Regions from separate parts of the Homo sapiens genome. Here region 2 is linked to region 1. Evidence: fine-mapped expression QTL. A gene starts in region 1. The other region holds a variant in brackets. All regions are shown on one strand. Distances are from middle to middle. Region 1 holds the start of SLC25A41 (solute carrier family 25 member 41). Region 2 overlaps KHSRP (KH-type splicing regulatory protein).

What was found. PIP is the estimated chance that this variant, and not a neighbour inherited with it, causes the effect.
Region 2: its variant is fine-mapped to the expression of SLC25A41 in whole blood (TOPMed, PIP above 0.99).

Annotation. Positions count from the first base shown.
Region 1 is chr19:6,429,973-6,438,300 of GRCh38, reverse strand. It overlaps SLC25A41 (solute carrier family 25 member 41), which reads left to right and starts at 4,538. Exons shown (of 7, transcript NM_173637.4): 1 at 4,538-4,814; 2 at 6,097-6,252; 3 at 8,140-8,292. The coding sequence starts at 4,608. It also overlaps a transcript of SLC25A23 not described here.
Region 2 is chr19:6,406,327-6,414,654 of GRCh38, reverse strand. KHSRP (KH-type splicing regulatory protein) reads left to right here. Exons shown (of 19, transcript NM_001366299.1): 19 at 1-1,553. It also overlaps the pseudogene LOC390877. Among named protein-coding and RNA genes, the nearest start is that of MIR3940, 6.0 kb to the left of the region's middle. RefSeq lists enhancers at 1,309-2,133, 2,134-2,958. The variant A/G (reference allele first, on the strand shown) is at 3,991.

The DNA.
Region 1 (8,328 bases):
TCTGTTTCCCAGGCTGGAGTGCAATGACGTGATCTCAGCTCACTGCAACCTCCGCTTCCCGGGTTCAAGTGATCCTCCTGCCTCAGCCTCCAGAATAGCTGGGATTACAGGTGCACACCACCACAACTGGCTAATTTTTGCATTTTTAGTAGAGACGGGGTTTCACTATGCTGGTCTTGAACTCCTGACCTCAAGTGATCCACCCGCCTCGGCCTCCCAAAGTGCAAATTCCAAGTTTGTTTTTTTTTTTTTTTTTGGAGTGCAGTGGCACGATCTCGGCTCACTGCAAGCTCCGCCTCCCGGGTTCATGCCATTCTCTTGCCTCAGCCTCCCAAGTAGCTGGGACTACAGGCACCCGCCACCACAGCCAGCTAATTTTTTTTTTTTTTTGTATTTTTAGTAGAGATGGGGTTTCACCATGTTAGCCAGGATGCCTCCCAAAGTGCTGGGATTATAGGCATGAGCCACCGCGCCCGGCCTTTTTTTTTTTCTGAGATGGAGTCTTGCTCTGTCGCCTAGGCTGGAGTGCACTGGCGCGATCTTGGCTCACTGCAAGCTCCGCCTCCTGGGTTCATGCCATTCTCCTGCCTCAGCCTCCCAAGTAGCTGGGACTACAGGCACCCGCCACCATGCCCAGCTAATTTTTTGTATTTTTAGTAGAGACGGGGTTTCACCATGTTAGCCAGGATGGTCTTGAACTCCTGACCTCGTGATCCGCCTGCCTCAGCCTCCCAAAGTGTTGGGATTACAGGCGTGAGCCACTGCGCCTGGCCGATTCCATGTCTTGTAAGGACAGCAGTCATCGGATTAGGGCAACCCCCCCCAATCCAGTGTAACCTCATTTTAATTTGATTATATCTACAAAGACCGTATTTCCAAATAAGGTCACATTTGCAGGTTACTGGGGTTAGGGCTTGAACACATCTTTTTGGGGGACAAAGTTCAACCCACAATGAGTAATTCAAATTTATTGTGGAAAAAATAGAAAATTCAGGGTGGGTGGGGTAGCTCATATCTGTAAACCCAGCACTTTGGGAGGTCGGGGTGGGAGGATCGCTTGAGGCCAGGAGTTTGAGACCAGCCTGGGCAACACAGTGAGACCCCATTTCTACAAAAAATTTTTCAATTAGCTGGGCATGATGGCATATACCTGTAGTTCCAGCTGCTCAGGAGGCTGAGATGGGAGGATGACTTGAGCTCAGGAGTTCAAGGTCACTTGAGCCCAGGAGTTTGAGACCAGCCTGGCCAACATGGTGAAACCCCGTCTCTACTAAAAATACAAAAATTAGCCGGGCATGGTGTCACATGCCTGTGATCCCAGCTACTCGGAAGGCTGAGGCAGGACAATCACTTGAACCCAGGAGGTGGAGGTTGCAGTGAGCCAAGATTGGTCCATTGCACTCCAGCCTGGGTAACAGAGCAAGACTCCATCTCAAAAAATAAAAAAATAAAAGATTGGGTGCAGTGGCTCACGTCTATAATCCTAGCATTTTGGGAGGCCGAGGCGGGTGAATCACCTGAGGTCAGGAGTTCGAGACCAGCCTGGCCAACATGGCAACCCCGTCTCTACTAGAAGTACAAAAATTAGCCGGACGTGGTGGCGGGCACCTATAATCCCAGCTACTCAGGAGGCTGAGGCAGGAGAATTGCTTGAACCTGGGTGGCAGAGGTTGCAGTGAGTCGAGATTGTGCCACTGCACTCCAGCCTGGGCAACAAGAGCAAAACTATGTCTCAAAGAAAAAAAAAAAAAGACACTGTCGCTGCCATCCTGGTTATTGGTTACATGCTCTCTCTCTCTCTCTCCCCCTTTCTCATAACATTTGCTCTGGAGGAAGCCGGTGGTCATGCCATGAGCAGCCTTATGGAGAGGACCATGTGGTAAGGAACTCAGCCAATAGCCATGTAACTGAGCTTGGAAGAGGATCTTGCTGTCCTGGCCAACATCTCACTGCAATTCTATCAGTTGAATTCCCTGGATAGTCCAAGCTTTGTGGATCCCTCCACCGAAACAACTGGATCCCAGTACCTGAATCCTGAATCTTAGACTCTTATACTTCAAACACTGATCACGGGAACAGCCGGCTCAGCGGCTCCTGAGTTCCTAATGCTCAGAATATGGGTGAGATGATAAATGTTTGTTGTGTTAAGCTGCCAACCTTTGGCGGGGGGGTAATTCGTCACATGGCAACAGCTGGCTAATACATATATACCTACATGTATATGATTTTGTCAGGTTTTTTGTTTGTTTGTTTGTTTGGTTTCGGTTTTGGTTTTTGAAACAGGGTTTCACTCTGTCCCCTCCCCAGGCTGGAATGCAGGGGTGCAATCATGGCTCACTGCAGCTTCAAACTCCCAGGCTCAGGTGATGCTCCCATCTCAGCCTCCGGAGTAGCTGGGACCACAGGCACACACCACCATGCCTGACTACTTTTTTTGTTTTTTAGAGACTGGGTCTTACTCTGTCACCCAGGCTGGAGTGCAGTGGCACAATCATAGCTCACTGCAGCCTCTAATTCCTGTGCTCAAGGGAGCCTCCCCCTTCAGCCTCCCAAGTAGCTGGGACTACAGGTGCACATGACCACACCTGGCTAATTTTAAAAAATTTTTGTAGAAAAATTTCTTGCTTTGCTGCCCAGGCTGGTCTTGAACTCCTGGACTCAAGTGATCCTCCCGCCTCAGCCTCCTGAGTAGCTGGGATTACAGGTATGCACCACCACACCCAGCTAATTTTCGTTATTTTTAGTAGACACGGGGTTTTATCATGTTGGCCAGGCTGGTCTCAAACTCCTGACCTCAGGTGATCCACCTGCCTTGGCCTCCCAAAGTGCTAGAATTACAGGTGTGAGCCACCACGCCCAGCCAAAAATAATTTTTAAAACTTAGCCGGGCGTGGTGTCCGCACCTGTGTTCCTAGCCACTCGGGTGGCTGAAGTGGGAGAACCACCTGAACAGAGAGGTCAAGGGGATTGACCTTAAGTGTGCCACTATACTCCAGCCTGGGTGACAGAGTGAGACCATTTCCCATCAGCTGTTTAGCAACCTTAATTCTTTTTTTTTTTTTCTTTTTTTTTTTTTTGAGACAGGGTCTCGCTCTGTCACCCAGGCTGGAGTTCAGTGGCAAGATCTCAGCTCACTGCAGCCTCCACCTCCCAAGCTCAAGCAACCCTCCCACCTCAGCCTCCTGTGTAGCTGGGACCACAGGCATGGACCACCATGCCCAGCTAATTTTTGTATTTTTTATAGAGACAGGGGTCTGGCCATGTTGCCCAGGGTGGTCTTGAACTCCTGGGCTCAAGTGATCCACCTGCCTTGACCTCCCAAAGTGCTGCTATTATAGGAATGAGCCACGGCGCCCAGCCTAGCAAAGTTTTGTTGTTGTTGTTGTTTGTTTGAGATGGAGTCTCGCTCTGTTGCCCAGGCTGCAGTGCAATGGCTCAATCTCGGCCCACTGCAACCTCTGTCTCCTGGGTTCAAGCAATTCTCCTGTCTCAGCCTCCAGAGTAGCTGAGATTACAGGGGCACACCACCAAACCTGGCTAATTTTTGTATTTTTAGGAGAGACTGGGTTTCACTATGTTAGTCAGGCTGGTCTCGAACTCCTGACCTCAGATGATCTGCCAACCTCGGCCTCCCAAAGTGCTGGGATTACAGGCGTCAGCCACCACATCAGGCCTAGCAACCTTATTTGTATCTGCAAACTTAATTCCCCTTTGCCATGTAACAAATGTAAGTCAGCCCAGGCTGCTATAAGGAAACACTAAAGAGCGGGGTCTTAAACTGCAGACATTTATTTCTGGAGGCTGGGAAATCCAAGGTTAAGGTGGCTGGCTAGCTCAGTTCCTGCTGAGGGATTTCTTCCTGCCATGCCTTCTTGCTGCGTCCTCCCATGGCAGACAGAGAGAGAGAAAGAGCTCTGGTTTGTCTTTTCCTTATAGGGAACTAATTCCATCTTGCAGGGGCCATCCTCATGAGTTCATCTAACCCTGAGGACCTCCCAAAGGCCCTGTCTCCAAATTCCAACCCACTGGGAAATAGGGCTTCAACATAAGAATTTTGCGGCCGGAAGCAGTGGCTCACGCCTGTAATCCCAGCACTTTGGGAGGCTGAGGTGGGCAGATCATGAGGTCAGGAGATCGAGACCATCCTGGCTAACACGGTGAAACCCCGTCTCTACTAAAAAATAAAAAAATTAGCTGGGCGTGGTGGCGGATGCCTGTAGTCCCAGCTACTCGGGAGGCTGAGGCAGGAGAATGGTGTGAACCCCAGAGGCGGAGCTTGCAGTGAGCCAAGATAGCGCCACTGCACTCCAGCCTGGGAGACTGAGCGAGACTCCGTCTCAAAAAAAACGATAATAATAATAATTTTGACAGGACACAATTCAATTTATAACGATAACATATTTATTGGTTTGGGGGATCAGGAGGTGGATACTTGGGGGAAGGGGGCCATCACGCTGCCCACCACACCTAGGAAGGTCACAGGGGCGTTTGTGACTTCATCCTCCTCTTGGTCCCCCACACAATCCTCCCACTAGACACTCCCGCATGGTAGCTGGAGCAGCAAACAACTGCTTAGGGATTTGAAGCCAGGTGTCCTAACTTCCTCCATGGGCGCTCAGCCTGGGGAACCTCAGAACACTTGCTCTAGGATCCAGACACTGTTTAGGAGGGTCAAGACCTTACTCATCAAAGCCCCGCCTCCCCCCCAACCTCCGCCTCCACCCCCATCCTGGAACCCTGGCTGTACACACGTGTATGGGTACGCGTTTGGCCACATGCATGACAACAACCTTGAACATCTCCCGTCACAGCAGGTGAGTTTAGGAAACACCAGTGTCCCGGCACCTCTGGTCAGGACTACAGGGAGAGGCCAGGCTACCCACGCCCTCTACAGGCCCACTCCCCTGCTAGCGGACCTAGAATTCCACCTTGAAGCAGGGTGGGGCAGGGAGGCAGGGCGCGATGGCTCCACACATGTAATCCCAGCACTTTGGGAGGTTGAGGTGGATGGGTCACTTGAGGACAGGAGTTCAAGACCAACCTGGCCAACATGCCGAAACCCTATCTCTACTAAAATTACAAAACTTAGCCAGGCATGGTGGTTGGCGCCTGTAGTACCAGCTACTCAGGAGGCTGAGGCAGGAGAATCGCTTGAACTCAGGAGGTAGAGGTTGCAGTGAGCCCAGATCTCATCACTGCACTCAAGCCAGAGCAACACAGCGAGATTCTGTCTCAAAAAATAAGAATAAATTAAGAGTCTAGATATAGTCCTAATTACATTTGTATTCCTCCTTGGATCCTCCATGAGTAACTTAGAGAGTCTATATTACATTGGCTGGGTGTGGTGGCTCACACCTGTAATCCCAGCACTTTGGGAGGCTGAGGCAGGTGGATCACCTGAGGTCAGGAGTTCAAGACCAGCCTGGCCAACATGGTGAAACCCTGCCTCTATTAAAATAATACAAAAATTTGCTCGGCACGTTGGCACTGTAATCCCAGCTACTGGGGAGGCTGAGGCAAGAGAATCACTTGAACCCAGGAGGCGGAGGTTGCAGTGAGCCGAGATCACACCATTGTCCCTACTTGGGAAGCTGAGACACGAGAATCGCTTGAACCAGGGGGACAGCGGTTGCAGTGAGCCAAGATCGCACCACTGTACTCCAGCTTGGGCGATAGAGTGAGACTCTGTCTAAAAAAAAACAAAAACAAAACAAAAAAAAACCAGGGGGGAGGGTTGAATCACTTGAGGTCAGGAGTTAGAGACCAGCCTGGCCAACATAGTGAAACCCATCTCTACTAAAAAAAAAAAAAAAAAAAAAAAAAAAAATTAGGTGTTGTGGTGCATGCCTATAATCCCAGCTACTCAGGAGGCTGCGGCAGGAACTGCTTGAACCTGGGAGGTGGAGGTTGCAACGAGCTGAGATTGTGCCACTGCACTCTAACCTGGGCAGCAGAGCAAGACTCCGTCTCGAAAAAAAAAAATGCAGACTTGGGGGAACAGGGTGGGTCTTTCACCAGGTGGGTGCCCTAGATGTGTGTCTGGGGAAGGTGCCCCAACCTGGCTGAGGATGAGGGAGGGCCGGGTCTGCCCTGCAGGTACTGGACACAGGAGAGCAGCTGATGGTCCCCGTGGAAGTCCTGGAAGTGGATAACAAGGAGGCCTTGTGGAAGTTTCTACTCTCAGGAGCTATGGCCGGGGCGGTGTCTCGCACGGGCACGGCACCTCTGGACAGAGCCAAGGTGTACATGCAGGTTTGTGTGGGTTGGGGGGAGGACGGGACCCAGCGCTGGAGCCACTGGGGAGAACGTGGGGTGAGGACAGATGGAGTTGACGTGGATGGAGTTCAGGATAGGAGTGCTGGCTGGAGTTGGGCTCTCCTGGACTAGCTGAGATTGAGGTTGTGGATGGTGATAGAGCTGGTGTGGACATGGCTTGGAGTCGAGTTTGAGGAGTTGAGAGAACTTGCCAGGGACAGGGACCAACGCTGGGCCAAGGTGGGGGTTGGAGGTCAGGGAATTGGGGATGGGGTCTTTGGACGAGTTTAAAGACAAGGTAGGGGCCAGGTGCAGTGGCTCATGCCTCTAATGCCAGCACTTTGGGAGGCCCAGGGGAGGTAGATCATCTGGGGTCAGGAGTTTGAGACCAGCCTGGCCAACATGGCGAAACCCTGTCTCTACTAAAAATACAAAAAAATTAGTCGGGCATGGTGGTGCGTGCCTGTAGTCCCAGCTACATAGGAGGCTGAGGCAGGAGAATTGCTTGAACCCAGGAGATGGAGGTTGCAGTGAGCCGAGATTGCATCACTGCACTCCAGCCTGGGCAACAGAGTGAGACTCTGTCTCAAAAAAGAAAGAAAAAAAAAAAAGGCAACATAGAACTGGAGCTACCTCAAGCAGGATATCTCACACCCATAGTCTCAGCTGCTCAGGAGGCTGAGGCAGGAGGATTGCTTGAGCCCAGGAGTTGGAGGCTGCAGTGAGCCATGATCATGCCACAAACTCCAGCCTGGGTGACAGAGCGAGATCCCTGGCTGAAAAAATAAACGGGTGCAGTGGCTCACTTTGGGAGGCCAAGGAGGGAGGATTACTTGAGCTTAGGAGTTTGAGACCAGCTGGGCAATATAGTCAGACCACATCTCTACAAAATAATAATTAATTAATTAATTAATTAAAAATTTAAAAAGGAGTCGGGCATGGTGACTCACACCTGTAATCCCAGCACTTTGGGAGGCCAAAGTGGGAAGATCGCTTGAGCCCAAGAGTTTGAGACCAGCCTGGGCAACATAGTAAGACCCCATCTATACAAAAAATTTTACAAAATTAGCCTGCCATGGTAGCACGCACCTGTAGTCCCAGCTACTTGGAAGGCTGAGGTGGGAGGATCACTTGAGCCCAGGAGTTTGGGGCTGCAGTGAGCTGTGATTGCACCACTGCATTCCGGCCTGGGCAACAGAACAAGATCCTGTCTCGAAAACATAAACAAACAAAAAAACAAGAAAGAAAAGGAAAAGAAGGCCAGGCGCGGTGGCTGATGCCTGTAATCCCAGCAATTTGGGGGGCCAAGGTGGGCAGATCACCTGAGGTCAGGAGTTCCAGACCAGCCTGGCCAACATGGCAAACCCCCAGCTCTACTAAAAATACAAAAATAAGCCAGGCGTGGTGACACTAGCCTGTAATCCCAGCTACTCGGGAGGCTGAGGCAGGAGAATCGCCTGAACCTGGGAGGCGGAGGTTGCAGTGAGCCGAGATCCCCCGACCGCACTCCAGCCTGGGCGACAGAGTGAGACTCCGTCAAAAAAAAAAAAAAAGAAGGAAGGGAGGAACGGAGGAAGGGAGGGAGGGAGGGAACAAAAAGGGAGAAAGAAAGGAAAGGATGGAAGGAAGAAAGAGAGAGAGAAAAAGACTGAGGAGATGAAGAGGAGGGGTGAGGTGGGAATGTAGGTTGATGTTGGCTTTGGGTCAGGGTTGCATGCGATTCTAGAACTGGCCGGGGAAGGAGCTGAAGAAGGAATGGGGATGGGATGGGGATGGGTTGGGGTTGGGTGGCTTGGGAGGTCCCGGTGGGGCTGCGCTTGGGGCAGGGATGGGGACGGAGACAGAGGCGAGCAGGGGCTCCTCCAGGGTCCTCCCTCCACCCAGGTCTACTCCTCCAAGACGAACTTCACCAACCTGCTGGGGGGGCTACAGAGCATGGTCCAGGAGGGCGGCTTCCGCTCCCTGTGGCGGGGCAACGGCATCAACGTGCTCAAGATTGCTCCTGAGTATGCCATCAAGTTCTCCGTATTCGAGCAGGTGGGGAATGAGGGGCCTGCTTCCCCCAGCTCAAGC
Region 2 (8,328 bases), 24 kb after region 1:
GACTGTGTTGCAGGCGGCCTGGCTCTGGCAGGGACTGGTGGGGACGCGGGGAGCGGCCCAGGCCCCTGCCCCGCCGGGCTCAGCCTCCCATGCGCTCGCGCTTGCCTGTGTCCCGGGCTTGTCTGTGAAGTGGGCGTGAAGATCGTTGCCACCTTCCAACCTACCTCACAGGGGTGTTGTGGGGACACCATGATCTCTGGATTGTTCATGTCGTCGTGCTGCGCCGGGAGCCACCGCCCTCCGGAGACAGGGCAGCTCCCCTACGACCCTAGCGCCTCCGCCCTCCGCGGCCCCTCTCCTCTCTTCCTGCTCTGTCCCTCCTTCTCCATCAGGGAGCAGCGTGACTTCAGCGAGTCCCGCGAGCACCTGGCTAGACAGTTAACAAGCACGTCCTTCCAGCCTGAGCCAGCGCAGGTTTGGGAGGGGGCTTCCTGGCCCCCCCCACGGTGTTCCAGCCCCTCCTCTCTTCCGCCCCCTAGTCTCCCACCCTTCCCTCCCCGTAGTGACCAATTCCTATCTCTTCCCTCTCCGCAGGCTCAATGAATCGAATGAATGTGAACTTCTTCATCTGTGAAAAATCTTTTTTTTTTCCATTTTGTTCTGTTTGGGGGCTTCTGTTTTGTTTGGCGAGAGAGCGATGGCTGCCGTGGGGAGTACTGGGGAGCCCTCGCGGCAAGCAGGGTGGGGGGGACTTGGGGGCATGCCGGGCCCTCACTCTCTCGCCTGTTCTGTGTCTCACATGCTTTTTCTTTCAAAATTGGGATCCTTCCATGTTGAGCCAGCCAGAGAAGATAGCGAGATCTAAATCTCTGCCAAAAAAAAAAAAAAACTTAAAAATTAAAAACACAAAGAGCAAAGCAGAACTTATAAAATTATATATATATATATTAAAAAGTCTCTATTCTTCACCCCCCAGCCTTCCTGAACCTGCCTCTCTGAGGATAAAGCAATTCATTTTCTCCCACCCTCGGCCCTCTTGTTTTTAAAATAAACTTTTAAAAAGGAAAAAAAAAAGTCACTCTTGCTATTTCTTTTTTTTAGTTAGAGGTGGAACATTCCTTGGACCAGGTGTTGTATTGCAGGACCCCTTCCCCCAGCAGCCAAGCCCCCTCTTCTCTCCCTCCCGCCCTGGCTCAGCTCCCGCGGCCCCGCCCGTCCCCCCTCCCAGGACTGGTCTGTTGTCTTTTCATCTGTTCAAGAGGAGATTGAAACTGAAAACAAAATGAGAACAACAAAAAAAATTGTATGGCAGTTTTTACTTTTTATCGCTCGTTTTTAACTTCACAAATAAATGATAACAAAACCTCCCCGTCTGCGGGTGCTGTCTGTCTCCCCCCCTTTCCTTCCCTCCCTGTAGTTTTGAAGCGGATGTTTGTTCTTTATAGATGTTGTTTAAAAAGCCTGATAATGGTGATTGAAATTTACAAACTTTGTGTTTTTTTTTTTTTAAGAAAAATATAAAATAGTTTTCTTCAGGCTCAATGTGCTTTCCTAACCGTGCCCCCCCCCCTTTTTTTTTTTTGTTAAATAAAGTGCTTTTTGTTTAAAAAAGACTGCGTGCTGGCCGCAGTTGTGTTTGTGAGAGGAAACAAGTTGAGCAAGTCTCAGCCAATTAGAGTGGGGTGTGGCCCCCCAAGACTTTCCCCTTCCCATGTGGGAAGGGGAGGCTGGCTGAGCCCAGCACTGCTGTCTTCCCCTACCCAGTTTCCCTCCAGCACCTTGGGGAGCAAGGCGCTCAGGAGGGCCTCAGGGACCGGCGTTCCCATGGATGGGCTGTTGCTACAGGAGGTCCTCTGGCCTGTTAACGTTCAGAGCCCTGAGGTGGGAGCCAGGCCCGCGTCAGTGCTCGCTGGGTGATGGGACCGGATGTGAGGTGGGAGAGGGCACCGAGGGGCCACCCAAGCTGTTTGGACCTGGGCAGGTGTCTTGCAGCCCCGCATGCAGCTGCAGGGTCTCTGAGGTTGTGGCTGAATGCCAGCGTTTAAAACTCGCTTCATCTTAGATGTCCTGGGCTCATGGGCCTGGTGATAGCCCCGGCAGGAGCCAGTAACAGCTGTGGCCTCTAGGGGGGGCTGTTGACAGTCCCCTGACCCATGCAGGTGTGCCAGGCACCTGGCCCAGTGGGGCATGTTCCTTGGTGGCCCCTGGCCAACCTCCCTGGTGGGGAAACAGACCCCGGGAAAGGGAACCTGTTGCTCTGGAATCACAGGGGGCATCGGTCCCCCTTTCTGGAGGTCTCACCTCCTAGGTACGCACCCTTCCCACGTACTGCACGGGTTCCGGTGAGGGGCAAGGCCCACCCCCAGCCCCTCTGTCTCACTGCAGACTCTCAATGACAGAGCAGCACTTGGCAAAGATGTTCTCTGGTGCTGCTTCTGCCGGGATCTAGAGAAAGGGGAGCCGCAGGGGTCAGGTCTGGGCCCCACGGCAGGGACACCACCCTCTCCCGCTCAGACCCTGGGAAAATCCCAGAGGCATGCACGTGAAGGGAGAGGGGACAGGGTCAGGAAAGCTTGTGTTGCTGACTGCTGTGTGAGGGCGTGCAGGGAGGCCCCACCAGTGTCCCATTGCCTTCCCACGTGAGCCAAGGCTGGGTTCTCAAGGCATTTCCTGGGGGAATGGGAATCCCCCAGGTTACCTGGTAGGAAAGCGAGGACCAGGCCCGGGTGACCCTGGACTGTTAAAGCCAGACTTGTTCCCTAGGGGTTGGGGTGCAGTGAGCCAGAAGCGGGGAGCACCTACGTTTCAGAGCAGGTTATTGCGCTGGTAGGTCAAGACCGGCTCACACAAGGTATAGTGCGTGTCCAAGCGCTGGTGGATGGCCAGCTCCGAGTCGTCTGCCCGGTGCTCCACCTGGCCCCAGTGTAGCACTCGTCGGAGCATCGTCTCCATGGAGCAGTCAAACACGATGACGACGCTGGGGGCCTGGCCCACCTAGGAACCCGAACAAGGGGGCTGGGTGTGGAGGGACCAGGCACAGTGGCTCCAGAACCCCGGCTTCCCCAGAAACCAGGTATCTAGGATTACGTGGGCAGGTAAGAAATAATCAGGCCACCCTGGTCTGTTTTATTTATTTATTTATTTATTTATTTATTTATTTATTTGGGCACGTAAGGAATAATCAGGCCACCCTGGTCTGTTTTATTTATTTATTTATTTATTTATTTATTTATTTATTTATTTATTGAGATGGAGTCCCACTCTGTCGCACAGGCTGGAGTGCAATAGCACGATCTCAGCTCACGGCAACCACCTCCTCCCAGGTTCAAGCAATTCTCCTGGCTCAGCCTCCCAAGTAGCTGGCATTACAGGTGCACACCACCACACCCAGCTGATTTTTGTACTTTTAGTAGAGACGGGATTTTGCCATGTTGGTCAGGCTAGTCTCGAACTCCTAACCTCAGGTGATCCTCCCGTCTTGGCCTCCCACAGTGCTGGGATTATAGGCGTGAGCCACCATGCCCAACCTTGTTTTATTTTTCTAGCTCAAGTTTTACGTATTTACTTTTTGGAGAGGACAGGACATTCACTGCCAAACACACACACACACACAGTGAAGCATCTCGCCATCTCCAACCACCCAGGGTCACTCTCCCTGGAGGCAGCCTAGTTACCTGCTCCTGTGTCTCCTTCGAAAGCTATGAGGCATGCACACTGCAAGCAAATATGGTTCTAATACTTTTTTCCTCCTCTTTTTTTTTTTTTTTTCCTTGAAACAGAGTCTTGCTCTGTCAACCAGGCTGGAGTGCGGTGGCGCGATCTCGGCTCGCCGCAACCTCCGTCTCCCAGGTTCAAGCAATTCTCCTGCCTCAGCTTCCCAAGTAGCTGGGATTACAGGCAGCCACCACCACGCCCAGCTAATTTTTGTATTTTTAGTAGGAACGGGGTTTCGCCATGTTGGCCAGGGTAGTCTCGAACTCCTGAGCTCAGGTGATCTGCCCACCTCAGCCTCCCAAAGTGCTGGGATTACAGGCATGAGCCACCGCGCCC[A/G]GCCTAAAAAGTAAAATATTCTTAAGTGACTCAAAAGGATACTTGCACAGAAGGATCAGATATATATTCTTGGATAGAAAGACTCAACATTATAAAGGAGCTGAGTCTTCCCAAACTAGTTTATAATTGTCATGTGATCCAAATGTGATGCAATGGCCAAGCATGATGGCTCACGCCTGTAATCCCAGCACTTTGGGAGGCTGAGGTGGGTGGATCACTTGAGGTGAGGAGTTCCAGCCCAACCTGGCCAACACAGTGAAACCCCATCTCTACTAAAAATACGAAAATTATCCGGGCGTGGTGGTGCACGCCTATAGTCCCAGCAACTCGGGAGGCTGAAGCAGGAGAATCGCTTGAACCCGGGAGGCAGAGGTTGCAGTGAGCAGAGATCACACCACTGCACTCCAGCCTGGGCAACACAGCAAGACTCTGCCTCAAAAAAAAAGAAAAGAAAAGAAGAAAGGAAAAAGCCAACAACCTGTCAGAAAAAAAAAAAAAATATATATATATATATATATAGAGAGAGAGAGAGAGAGAAAGAGTTTACTGAAGAAGACAACAAAACACCTTTCAAACTTTTTGTATTTTTAGAGACAGGGTCTCACTCTGTTGCCTGGGCTGGAGTGTAGTGGCAAGATCATAGCTCACTGCAGCCCTGAACTCCTGGGCTCAAGCGATCTCCCACCTCAGCCTCCTGAATAGCTAGGACTACAGGTATGTGTCCCTGTGCCCAGCTTGGCCCTTAAACTTTGCAAAAGATATTAAAACTCAATTGTAGCCAGAGAAATGCTCATTACAACCACACTGAAATACCACTTCTCACCTACACAGGTTGACAAAAATCCAAAACCTTGGCAGCATGTTCTGTAGGTCTCACTGTAAATGTAAAATGAAGAGGAATCTGGTGATGGCTAGCAAAATTATGCATTTCTCTTTAATCCAGCAATTCCACTCCTAATCTATTTCAAGGATACTAGCAAAAAGGTGAAATGACATGCAAAGGTTATTATTTAATGTGGCATTGTCTGTAGTGGCAAAGGATTGAAAGTAATTTATTGCCCATAGGAGATTAGCTGAATATACAATGGCGTGGCCACACAATGGAATACTACACAGCTGTAAAAAAAGAAACAAGGAATATCTCTTGACACTGATGTGAGATATTCTGGATGGATATATGGCAAAGTTAAAAAAAACAAAAAAACAGGCTGGCATGGTGGCTCAGGCCTGTCATCCCAGCACTTAGGGAGGCCGAGGCGGGCAGATCGTTTGAGGTCACGAGTTTGAGACCAGCCTGGCCAACATGGTGAAACCCCGTCTCTATTAAAAATATAAAAATTATCCTGGCATGGTGGTGCACGCCTGCAGACCCAGCTACTCAGGAGACTGAAGCAGGAGAATCGCTTGACCCAGGAAGCAGAGATTTCAGTGAGCCAAGATGACACCACTGCACTCCAGTCTGGACAACAGAGAAAAGAAGTTGATGTAATGAAATACTGCAAACGCACACAGAAGAGGATAGCGTGAGGAATCCCCAGACAGCCAGGTCTAACCATTGTTGTATCTGTGCCCAAACCTCTTGTGAATGCTGGTTATGGGTTTTTGGGTTTTTTTCAGACAAGGTCTACTTTTGTCACCCAGGCTAGATAGAGTGCAGTGGCGTGACCATAGCTCACTGGGGCCTTGAACTACCCAACTCAAGTGATCCTCCCGCCTCAGCCTTCTGAGTGGGGGGGAAAAAAAAGGATACAAGGTCATTTGAAATAATTATTTTCTGACTGGGCACGGTGGCTCACGCCTGTAATCCCAGCACTTTGGGAGGCCAAGATGGGCAGATCACTTGAGGTCAGGAGTTCGAGACCAGCCTAACCAACATGGTGAAACCCCATCTCTACTAAAAATACAAAATTAGCTGGGTGTGGTGGTGCGTGCCTTTAATCCCAGCTACTTGGGAGGCTGAGGCAGGAGAATCGCTTGAACCCAGGAAGCGGAGGTTGCAGTGAGCCCAGATTGTGCCATTGCACTCCAGCCTGAGTGACAGAGCAAGACTCCATATAAAAAGATATATATATATATTTTCTGTGTAATTAAGGAATGCAATAGATACATAGTTGGGTCATTTGTTTCAGTTAGGTTTCATTATGTAGGGTTGCCTGGCCAACCCTGTATTTTTATTATGGTGCATCTATAGTGGGATAGAGTTGGTCCTCCATATGCGTGAGTTCTGCATCTGTGAATTCAACTAACCTCAGACTGAAAATATTTGGATGCCGGGCGCAGTAGCTCACGCTTGTAATCTCAGCACTTTGGGAGGACAAGGTGGGCAGATCACTTGAGGCCAGGAGTTCGAGACCAGCCTGGCCAACATGGTGAAACCCCATCTCTACTAAAAATACAAAAAATTAGCCGGGTGTGGTAGTAATCTCAGCTACTCGGGATGCTGAGGCAGGAGAATCGCTTGAACCCAGGAGGCGGAGGTTGCAGTGAGCCGAGATCGCGCCATTGCGCTCCAGCCTGGGCAACAAAAGGGAAATTCTGTCTCAAAAAAGAAAAAAGAAAAGAAAATATTTGGAAAACAAGTTGCCTCTGTATTGAACATGTATAGACTTTTTTTTTTTTTTTTTAAGACAGGGTCTGGTTTTTTTCCCCATACCTCACAATGTCCAAAATAAAATTCTTTTTTTTATTTGTTTGAGACAGGGTCTTGCTGAAGTACAGTGGCGCAATCATAGCTCACTGTAGCCTCAAACTCCTGGGCTCAAGCGATCTCACCTCACTCTCCTGAGTAGCTGGGACCACAGGCGTGGGCCACCTTGCCCAGCCCAGAATTTTTTCCTTGTCATTATTCCCTAAGCAATACACTATAACAACTATTTACATAACATTTACATTGTTTTAGGTATTACAAGTAATCTAGAGATGACTTACAGTATATGAGAGGGTGATCATAGGTTCTATGCAAATACTATGCTATTTTATTATTTAACTCTTTGAATATGTAATTTATTTAGAGATGGGGTCTCACTATGTTGCCCAGGCCGGCCTCAAACTCCTGAGCTCCCACTTCGGCCTCCCAAAGTGCTGGGATTACAGGTGTGATTACCGTACCTGGCCACTACTGTGTTATTGTATATCAGAAATGTGAGCAGCCAGGTGTGGTGCCTCACGCCTGTAATCCCAGCACTTTGGGAGGCCGAGGTGGGTGGATCGCCTGAGGTCAGGAGTTCAAGACCAGCCTGGCCAACATGGAGAAACCCTGTCTCTACTAAAAATACAAAATTAGCCGGGCATGGTGCCACATGCTTATAATCCCAGCTACTCAGGAGGCTGAGGCAGGAGAATTGCTTGAACCCGGGATGCGGAGGTTGTAGTGAGAAGAGATCACGCCACTACACTCCAGCCTGGCGACAGAGCGAGACCCTGTCTCAAAAACAAACAAACAAAAAAACTTCAGCATCCATGGATTTTGGTATCTGAGACAGATCCTGGAACCAATCCCCCATGGATACAGAGGACCTACATATTAAAGGAAAACGAGGCCAAGCACGGTGGCTCACGCCTGTAATCCCAGCACTTTGGGAGGCCAAGGCGGGTGGATCACCTGAGGTCAGGAGTTTGAGACCAGCCTGGCCAACATGACGAAATCCCATTTCTATTAAAAATACAAAAATTATCCAGAGATCGCTTGAACCTGGGAGGCAGAGGTTGCAGTGAGCCGAGATCATGCCACTGCACTCCAGCCTGGACAAAGGACAAGACTCTGTCTCAAAAAAGAAAACTAAAATAAATAAATAATAATAATAAAGGAAAATGAGAGCTATAAAGAAATCTTAAACTTCCTTTTCTAATTTTATTCTTTTATTTATTGTTTTGACCCAATAATTGTACATGTGTATAGGGTACATAGTGATGTTTCAACACATATAGTTTTATTCTTAGTAGTTAATGTTGGCATATTGTTTTCAAACTATTTGGTATCTAATGGTATGATGCAAATGAGTATGTTAGTGGTATTAAGAACCAAAATTTTTAGGGAAAGAGAAAAGGGAAGGAACAACACTGTAAGTGTCACGTGAACGTGAAATATCAGAATGAACTTGTGATTTCTTTTTCTCTTTCAAGAGTATGTGTTTCTTAGCTCTGTTCACTGGGAAGATCCAGAAACGATGACAACCCAATAGCAACGAGTATTCTTTGAACCCTAATTTTGCACCACGAAAAGGGCTTCTGGAAAAGACCCATTCCAGGACTGAGCAAGAAATGTAAAAAGTGGGAGTTTAGGCCGGGCGTGGTGGCTCACACCTGTAATCCAAGCACTTTAAGAGGCCAAGGTGGGTG